Homo sapiens: one gene and its partner. The protein of the gene in region 1 purifies or fractionates together with the protein of each later gene. This does not show direct contact. Each region holds a gene or a part of one and is shown on either strand. Other genes may lie near its edges. The genes, in order: CRB2 and EPB41L5.

Region 1 (3,819 bases):
ATCCTGCCCAGAAGCCAGACATCCTTGGTGCTGTTTCTCTGCTATATAGGCTCTCCTAAAACCGTTCCCAGTTCTGGGTGCAGATGTGTGCAGCTTACTGGGACCTGGCTTGCAGACCCCTGGCCCTCTGTCCATACTGTGCATGCAGAGACCCACGTTGCTTTTGGGGTCTGGGGTGGGCCTGAGAGGGTGGGGAGGAGATTGTCCTTGTAACCTCTGCCCACCCTGCCCAGCCAGTTTCTTCTTTCTACAGGGACGGTGCCTTCAGAGCCCCCCAGTGCCTGTGCCTCAGACCCGTGCGCTCCAGGGACCGAGTGCCAGGCTACCGAGAGTGGTGGCTATACCTGTGGGCCCATGGAGCCCCGGGGCTGTGCCACCCAGCCATGCCACCACGGCGCTCTGTGTGTGCCCCAGGGTCCAGATCCCACCGGCTTCCGCTGCTACTGCGTGCCGGGTTTCCAGGGCCCACGCTGCGAGCTGGACATCGATGAGTGTGCATCCCGGCCGTGCCACCATGGGGCCACCTGCCGCAACCTGGCCGATCGCTACGAGTGCCATTGCCCCCTTGGCTATGCAGGTAACAGCCTGGGCCGCCCTGGGAGGAGGTCTGTAATGCAGATCGCATCAGCTGCTCAGAGTGTAAGCATCATGGCTTCAGCTTTGCCTTTCGTGTAGGGACGCCCCCAGGCATCCGGGCAGCTCTAGGGTATATCCACTTGGTCTGACTACAGAACTGATGCCTGGCAGCTCTGGGTGAGAGTATGTATGTGCGGGTGCTGGCGTGGTGTGTGGCGCATCTCAGGCACTCGGTAAATGTGATTTCAGTCCAGCCTAGAGTTCAGTTTGGCTGCGGGGGTGGAATACCCCTCATTCATCTCTGGCAGTGTGAACCTGCCTGGCGTGACTTTAGTGAGGATGCCCAGATAGTCTTTCTAGCACTTCAGGCCTGTGCCAAGCTGTCATGTAGACACTGTCTACACGACAGTCACCATCAGCTCATTTGAACACTCCTGATGTGGTCTGGAGTGCAATGTGGACCCCTGGCCTCTGGGTCTCCCCCAGAGTTCTAGCATAGACATACAAGGTCTCGTTCAAACTGTAGTGTTGACATACCCCAGGGATCGCTGCTGTCTGGAGTGGGATAATATATACGTAAGTGCTCAGAAAAGTGACTGGCACTAAGGGTACCTTCTCCAGAGTGTGGCCCGTCCCAGGCCCACCCATGGTCTGAGCCGAGAACATCCTGGAGCGGCTTCCCAGAGAGGCCTGAAGTCGGGAAGGAGGGCGCAGCTGGGGACAGAAGGGGCGCAGTCTGGGAGCGAAGCTGAGTCCAGGGCAGAGTCTGAGTCTGCAGTGTAGATGCTCTGGATCCTACTTCAATCCTGAATTCAGACAACTGTACTCTGAGGGCAGAGGGCAGTTTGAAGTCACTTCAGAGCAAGAGGTACAGATTGGGGGGCTGGGTTCCAGGGCAGGGGGCCTACAGCGAAGAGATGGCAGCTGATGAAGAGAGATTTGGGAAGCTGGTTCCATGCATCTTTCTCATCGTTCCAGTGTCTCAGCGTCTGGGTGTATTAGTGTACATGCCAGTGCAGGTCACATTCGTCCATGTGTCTCCTAGTTCCAAGTTCTGTTTTGCATCTGTAAAGATCTGCCAGTACCTGGGGGTGTCTGCAGTCTGAGTGCATGTGTGGGCAGTGGGTTGTTCGGGCAGTGGGTTGTGTGGGCAGTGGGTTGTGCGGGCAGTGGGTTGTGCGGGCAGTGGGTTGTGCATCCGGATGTGTAGCACTCACACACTTCGGGTGACTCTTCCTGGGTAAGCTGTGGATGTGAGTGGGGGCAGCATCTGCCGTGACTCATTCTCTCCTCTTTCCATTCCAAGCCGGGTGGGGGAGTTTGGGATTTCCAGACAAGGCCTGGCTCCCCCTGGCACAGAGGGTGGGAGTGGGGATGGGGAGGGAGGAGGGAAGGGTCATGGGAAGGTGGGGCCATGTTTTGTGCTCAATGAACTGAGAAGGGGGAGGGTTCCAGCTGGAGTCAGCTGGGCCTCTGGCCCCCGCTTGACCAAACCCACTTAGGGGGCAGGGCCTGCTGGAGTCTACAGTGACACGTGAGTCCAGGATGATCTCAGGCAGCGTATCTGAAACCCTGGGACTCCCCATCTCCCTTCCTCTTCACCATCACCCTGGGAGAGCCACTCAGCTGTCGTGATTCGCCCAGGACTGCGAGGGTTCTGGGGACTTGGTACTTTCAGTTCTAAAACCAGGACAGTGCAGGGACACTGGGAGGAGTGATTACCCTACTCAAGCATCTCCTGCCTCTCTGGGATCTGAAAGCCACCAGAGTGGACCTTCTAAAAAGTAGGTAGGGCCAGGTGTGGTGGCTCACGCCTGTAATCCCAGCACTTCGGGAGGCTGAGGTGGGTGGATCACTTGAGGCCAGGAGTTGGAGACCAACCTGGCCAACATGGTGAAACGCCTTTTCTACAAAAAAATACAAAAATTAGCCGGGTGAGGTGGCATGCACCTGTAATCCCAGCTACTCTGCAATCTGAGGCACAAGAATCACTTGAACCCAGTGGGCAGAGATTGCAGTGGGCTAAGATTGCAGCACTGCACTCCAGCCTGGGCGACAGAGTGAGACTCTGTCTCAAAAAAATAAAAAACAAAAACAAACCCAAAACAACTAACTAAAATGTAGGTGGGACCAAGTCACTTACCTGTCTGAAACTTTCAGGATGGACCCAGAGGTTACCTGGTCCCCAAGGCACTGACACCTCCCACCCGACTCACCTCCGCCACCCTCTCCCTTGCTTCCAACCCTCCAATAACCCCGCCTAGGGCATCATGGCCCTGCCCCTAGTGGAACTTGCCTCTTGCTGCAGTCTCTTTGGAATCCAACTGCTGCCCACAGTCCCCTATCTGAATCCTTCAAAAGCCTCTTCTTCTAGGAAGCCTTCCCTGAACAGAGCAGACCCCGGCTATTGCTTTCCCAAGACCCAACCCCTTTCCTTGTTGAACTTGGCAACATCACCTAGCTCATTTAGGTAATTACTGGCTGAATCACCCCCCACCATGTCCTGGCCTAGACTGCTGTGAGCCCCATGAAGGCAGGGCTGTCTGTCTCGTTTCTCTCCCTGCGGTTGCTGGCATGACCCGTCCCCCACCCCCCAACCACCACCACCACCATCCGGCTCTGAATGAATGAATCCACGAGTCTCTAACTCTGGAGCAGGCCTGGCGCGACCTCTTCCGCCCTGCTCTGGGTGTCCATCCTGCACCCTGTGTGTCCCCTGCCCTGTCCAGGCGTGACCTGCGAGATGGAGGTGGACGAGTGCGCCTCAGCGCCCTGCCTGCACGGGGGCTCGTGCCTGGACGGCGTGGGCTCCTTCCGCTGTGTGTGCGCGCCAGGCTACGGGGGCACCCGTTGCCAGCTGGACCTCGACGAGTGCCAGAGCCAGCCGTGCGCACATGGGGGCACGTGCCACGACCTGGTCAACGGGTGAGCGAGCGGCGGGGCAGGCGGCAGGGGCGCCGGGTGCCCGAGGGCGGGGAGGCCAGGCGCGGGGCAGAAGGGGCAGGCGCGCGCTCAGCTCCGCCGGTGCGCCCTCCCCAGGTTCCGGTGCGACTGCGCGGGCACCGGCTACGAGGGCACGCACTGCGAGCGGGAGGTGCTGGAGTGCGCATCGGCGCCCTGCGAGCACAACGCGTCCTGCCTCGAGGGCCTCGGGAGCTTCCGCTGCCTCTGTTGGCCAGGTGTGTGCGTGCAGGTGCGCGGCCTGGCGGGGGGAGGGGTAGGTGTGCGCCTGTGCGGCCTGGG
Region 2 (3,819 bases), on another chromosome or scaffold:
CATGCAGGACATAGGCATGGGCAAAAACTTCAAACTAAAACACCAAAAGCAGTGGCCACAAAAGCCAGAATTGACAAATGGGATCTAATTAAACTAAAGAGCTTCTGCACAGTAAAAGAAACTATCATCAGAGCGAACAGGCAATGTACAAAATGTACAATGTACAGAAAATTTTTGCAATGTATCCATCTGGCAAAGAGCTAATATCCAGAATGTATAAGAAACTTAAACAAATTTTCCAGAAAAAAACAACCCCATCAAAAAGTGGGTGAAGGATATGAACAGACACTTCTCAAAAGCAGACATTTATATGGCCAGCAAACACATGAAAAAAAGCGCATCATCACTGGTTATTAGAGAAATGCAAATCAAAACCACAATGAGATACCATCTCACACCAGTTAGAATGGCCATTATTAAAAAGTCAGGAAACAACAGGTGCTGGAGAGGATGTGGAGAAATAGGAATGCTTTTTTTGGTGGGGGTGTAAATTGGTTCAACCATTGTGGAAGACAGTGTGGTGATTTCCTCAAAGATCTAGAACCAGAAATATCATTTGACCCAGCAATCCCATTACTGCGTATATACCCAAAGGATTATAAGTCATTCTACTATAAAGACACATGCACACATATGTTTATTGCAGCACTGTTCACAATAGCAAAGACTTGGAACCAACCCAAATGCCCATCAATGATAGACTGGATAAGGAAAATGTAGCACATATACACCATGGAATACTATGCAGCCATAAAATAGGATGAGTTCATGTCCTTTGCAGGGACATAGATGAAGCTGGAAACCATCATTCTTAGCAAACTAACACAGGAACAGAAAACCAAACACTGCATGTTCTTCCTCATAAGTGGGAGTTGAACAATGGTAACACATGGACACAGGGAGGGGAACATCACATACTGGCGCCTGTTGGGAGGGTGAGGGACTAGGGGAGGGATACCATTAGGAGAAATATCTAATGTAGATGATGTGTTGATGGGTGCAGCAAACCACCATGGCATGTGTATACTTACGTAACAAACCTGCACGTTCTGCACATGTATCCCAGAACTTAAAGTATTTAAAAAAAAAAAAAGTCATCTGTCAGGTTTTAGGTCGTTTTTGTTCACGTGTGTCATAAGCTTGCTATGGTGGATATTGGCTAGATACTCTTCCTTCTCACCTCTTTTCTCATTCACTTGGGTTTTTCTCTTGTGAAGTATTTCCTTGCGGTTATCAGTGTAGGCACAATGAAAAGTAACTTTTAGTAATTCATTCAAATTTTAAAGTTCTGTCATCTGCTTAACTAAATTTTTGTTTTTGTTTTTCAGCATTGGTTGGATGGTACAAAAAGCATCAAAAAGCAAGTAAAAAGTAAGTGCAGACAAAATTATTTGTGGGGGGGAAAGGAAATAGAATATATTAGAAATTCTGATTTCTAATAGGATGTAAGAAATCATGTTTCAGATGAGTTTTTTAGCATTTCCATTTTCTAGAAATTATTTTATTCTGATACACTGAGCTACTCCCCAAGTCATGTAGGCTTGATACTAATCTAGATTAAACTGCATTGGGGCTTAACTTTCCAGGAGAAAACCTTGCAGCTTGCAAATGGGATTGACTTTCCCCGAAATGCTTAATGGTTATTTTTTAATTAGTTGTGTTGGAATTTTCCTGTTTGGCATCTGCCCTAATATTGAAAGTATTTTGAGACTTTGTGATATTTTAAAATTAAGAAAAATGAAACAATTCACATAAAATGTTAGTGTCATTCAGAGAGAGAATACCATTGTTTATTCATTATCCAACTTGACTTTTTATCAGACTTATTAGGGCACCTCAACTCTTGTCTCAAAATAATGAGACCACTGAGATTATAGAAGTTAGTGAACTTGCTGAATTGTATTTGTGTGGGAAGATTCACCATGAGCAGTTAATAACATAGGCATTCTTCAGTGTAGCAGGTTTTCAGGGCTGTTAGGTTGCACAGTCAAGACTTTTATTTGATGCATTTGGCTCTGAACTGTTAGAATTAATCTATAGCTGTCTATTCTTGGGATGAGAGTTAATAGTAATATGATGGCTTGGTACATTAAAAAACAATCTAATTGAAGCCTATGATCTAACCTGCAATAATGCCATAAAAACCTCATCTTTTGTCTCACTTCAGTAGATTTTTGACCAGTTTTCTGGCTGAAAAGTATTATTTAAGTAGTTTATTTTATTAAAACCTTTTTTTTTTTTAAATGACAGTTGGTTCACCCTATTGTCTGCATCTTCGAGTTAAGTTTTATTCCTCAGAACCAAATAACCTTCGTGAGGAGCTAACCCGGTAAGAACACCATCTAGAATTGTGCCAGGGTTATTTTGATAGTTTTGAAAGACTGTCTTTATATTGTTTCCAATTTATAGCCAGCTAATAAAATGGATTCCTGTCCCCTGGTAACAAGACCTCAAATAATAGAATTTTATTCTGGGACGTGTTTTTTAAGTGTATGATTCTTTTCCTTTAGCATTTTCAAAATAAAGAGTTGGTTTCTTAGCATCCTCCAAAGGTGACTAGTGAGTTCTTTTTTTTAAGTATCACTCTCAACTCAGGAATGTTAACAGGATTCACATGTTTCAATACATTGCAATATTATATTTATTGATGTTGAAAATAATCTATCTTTGGCCACAGGGAGTTTATTCAAATTGGCGCCCAACTTTCTTTACTCATTGAAATGCCATTGATTAATGAAAAACATTAGATTCTGATTGGTTTGAATAGTTTTGAATAAACCTTATGTTGTATATACTTATTTTAATGTTATCCTGCCTCCTTTGTATTTATTCATGGTCTCTATTATAAATTCATTGCTCCATATACACATACTATTTATTAAATGAAAAAGTTGAGCTTTTGAGTTCCTTTAGAAGGGTTTCCTTTAGAACACCTTGACAATGAGATAGTAGCTATCATCTGTAGTTATATCCATGTCTGTATCCCTTCACATAACAAGTAGATGTCTCGCTCTGTCATCTAGGCTGGAGTGCAATGGCATGTTCTCAGTTCACCGCAACCTCTGTTCCCCCAGGTTCAAGCAGTTCTCATGCCTCAGCCTCCCAAATAGCTGGGATTACAGGCACGTGCTCACACCCCCAGCCAATTTGCGTATTTTAATAGAGACGGGGTTTCGCCATGTTGGCCAGGCTGGTCTTGAACTCCTGGCCTCAAGTGATCCACCCGCCTCGCCCTCCCAAAGTGCTAGGATTATAGGTGTGAGCCACTGCACCAGGCCTTTAATTAAGAATACTTCTAAGATCTAGTGTTAGATCAGTAGGGTGATTATAGTTTACAATTACGTATTTTACATTTCAGAATAGCTAGAAGAAAATAATTCAAATATTTCTAGCATAAAGAAGAGAAAAATATTTAAGGTGATGGATACCCCACGTATACTGACTTGATCCTTACAAATTATATGAATGTATTCAATTATTTCATGTATCCCCAAACTATGCACATCTTTTATACATTAATACAAGTAATTTTTAATGAAATAATACTTCTCAAGTTAGAAGTGTAAGATTTTTTTTCACAGTCGATTGTGCTGTTGGGTTAAATTTGTGCCTTTCATTTTTCTTAGGTATTTATTTGTTCTTCAGTTAAAACAAGATATTCTCAGTGGAAAGTGAGTATTAGTTATTTAAGGATAAATGCACATTTTCGTGAGTGGTTGAAAAATTATTTTGAAAATAAGTTTATAGTTGTAAAAAAGAAATGGTCAACATAAAACATGTATTATTTTCATTTGTCTTAAAATGAAGGTTATGAAATCA

The links.
Region 2: the proteins of CRB2 (region 1) and EPB41L5 purify together in Homo sapiens (pull-down; one study listed by IntAct). This does not show direct contact.

The regions. Positions count from the first base shown.
Region 1 is NC_000009.12:123,362,612-123,366,430, forward strand, and holds part of CRB2 (protein crumbs homolog 2 precursor), read left to right. Parts: intron 1-253; coding exon 254-577; intron 578-3,305; coding exon 3,306-3,501; intron 3,502-3,615; coding exon 3,616-3,755; intron 3,756-3,819. UniProt on the Homo sapiens protein: Apical polarity protein that plays a central role during the epithelial-to-mesenchymal transition (EMT) at gastrulation, when newly specified mesodermal cells move inside the embryo.
Region 2 is NC_000002.12:120,071,850-120,075,668, forward strand, and holds part of EPB41L5 (band 4.1-like protein 5), read left to right. Parts: intron 1-1,328; coding exon 1,329-1,371; intron 1,372-2,250; coding exon 2,251-2,329; intron 2,330-3,626; coding exon 3,627-3,671; intron 3,672-3,819. UniProt on the Homo sapiens protein: Plays a role in the formation and organization of tight junctions during the establishment of polarity in epithelial cells.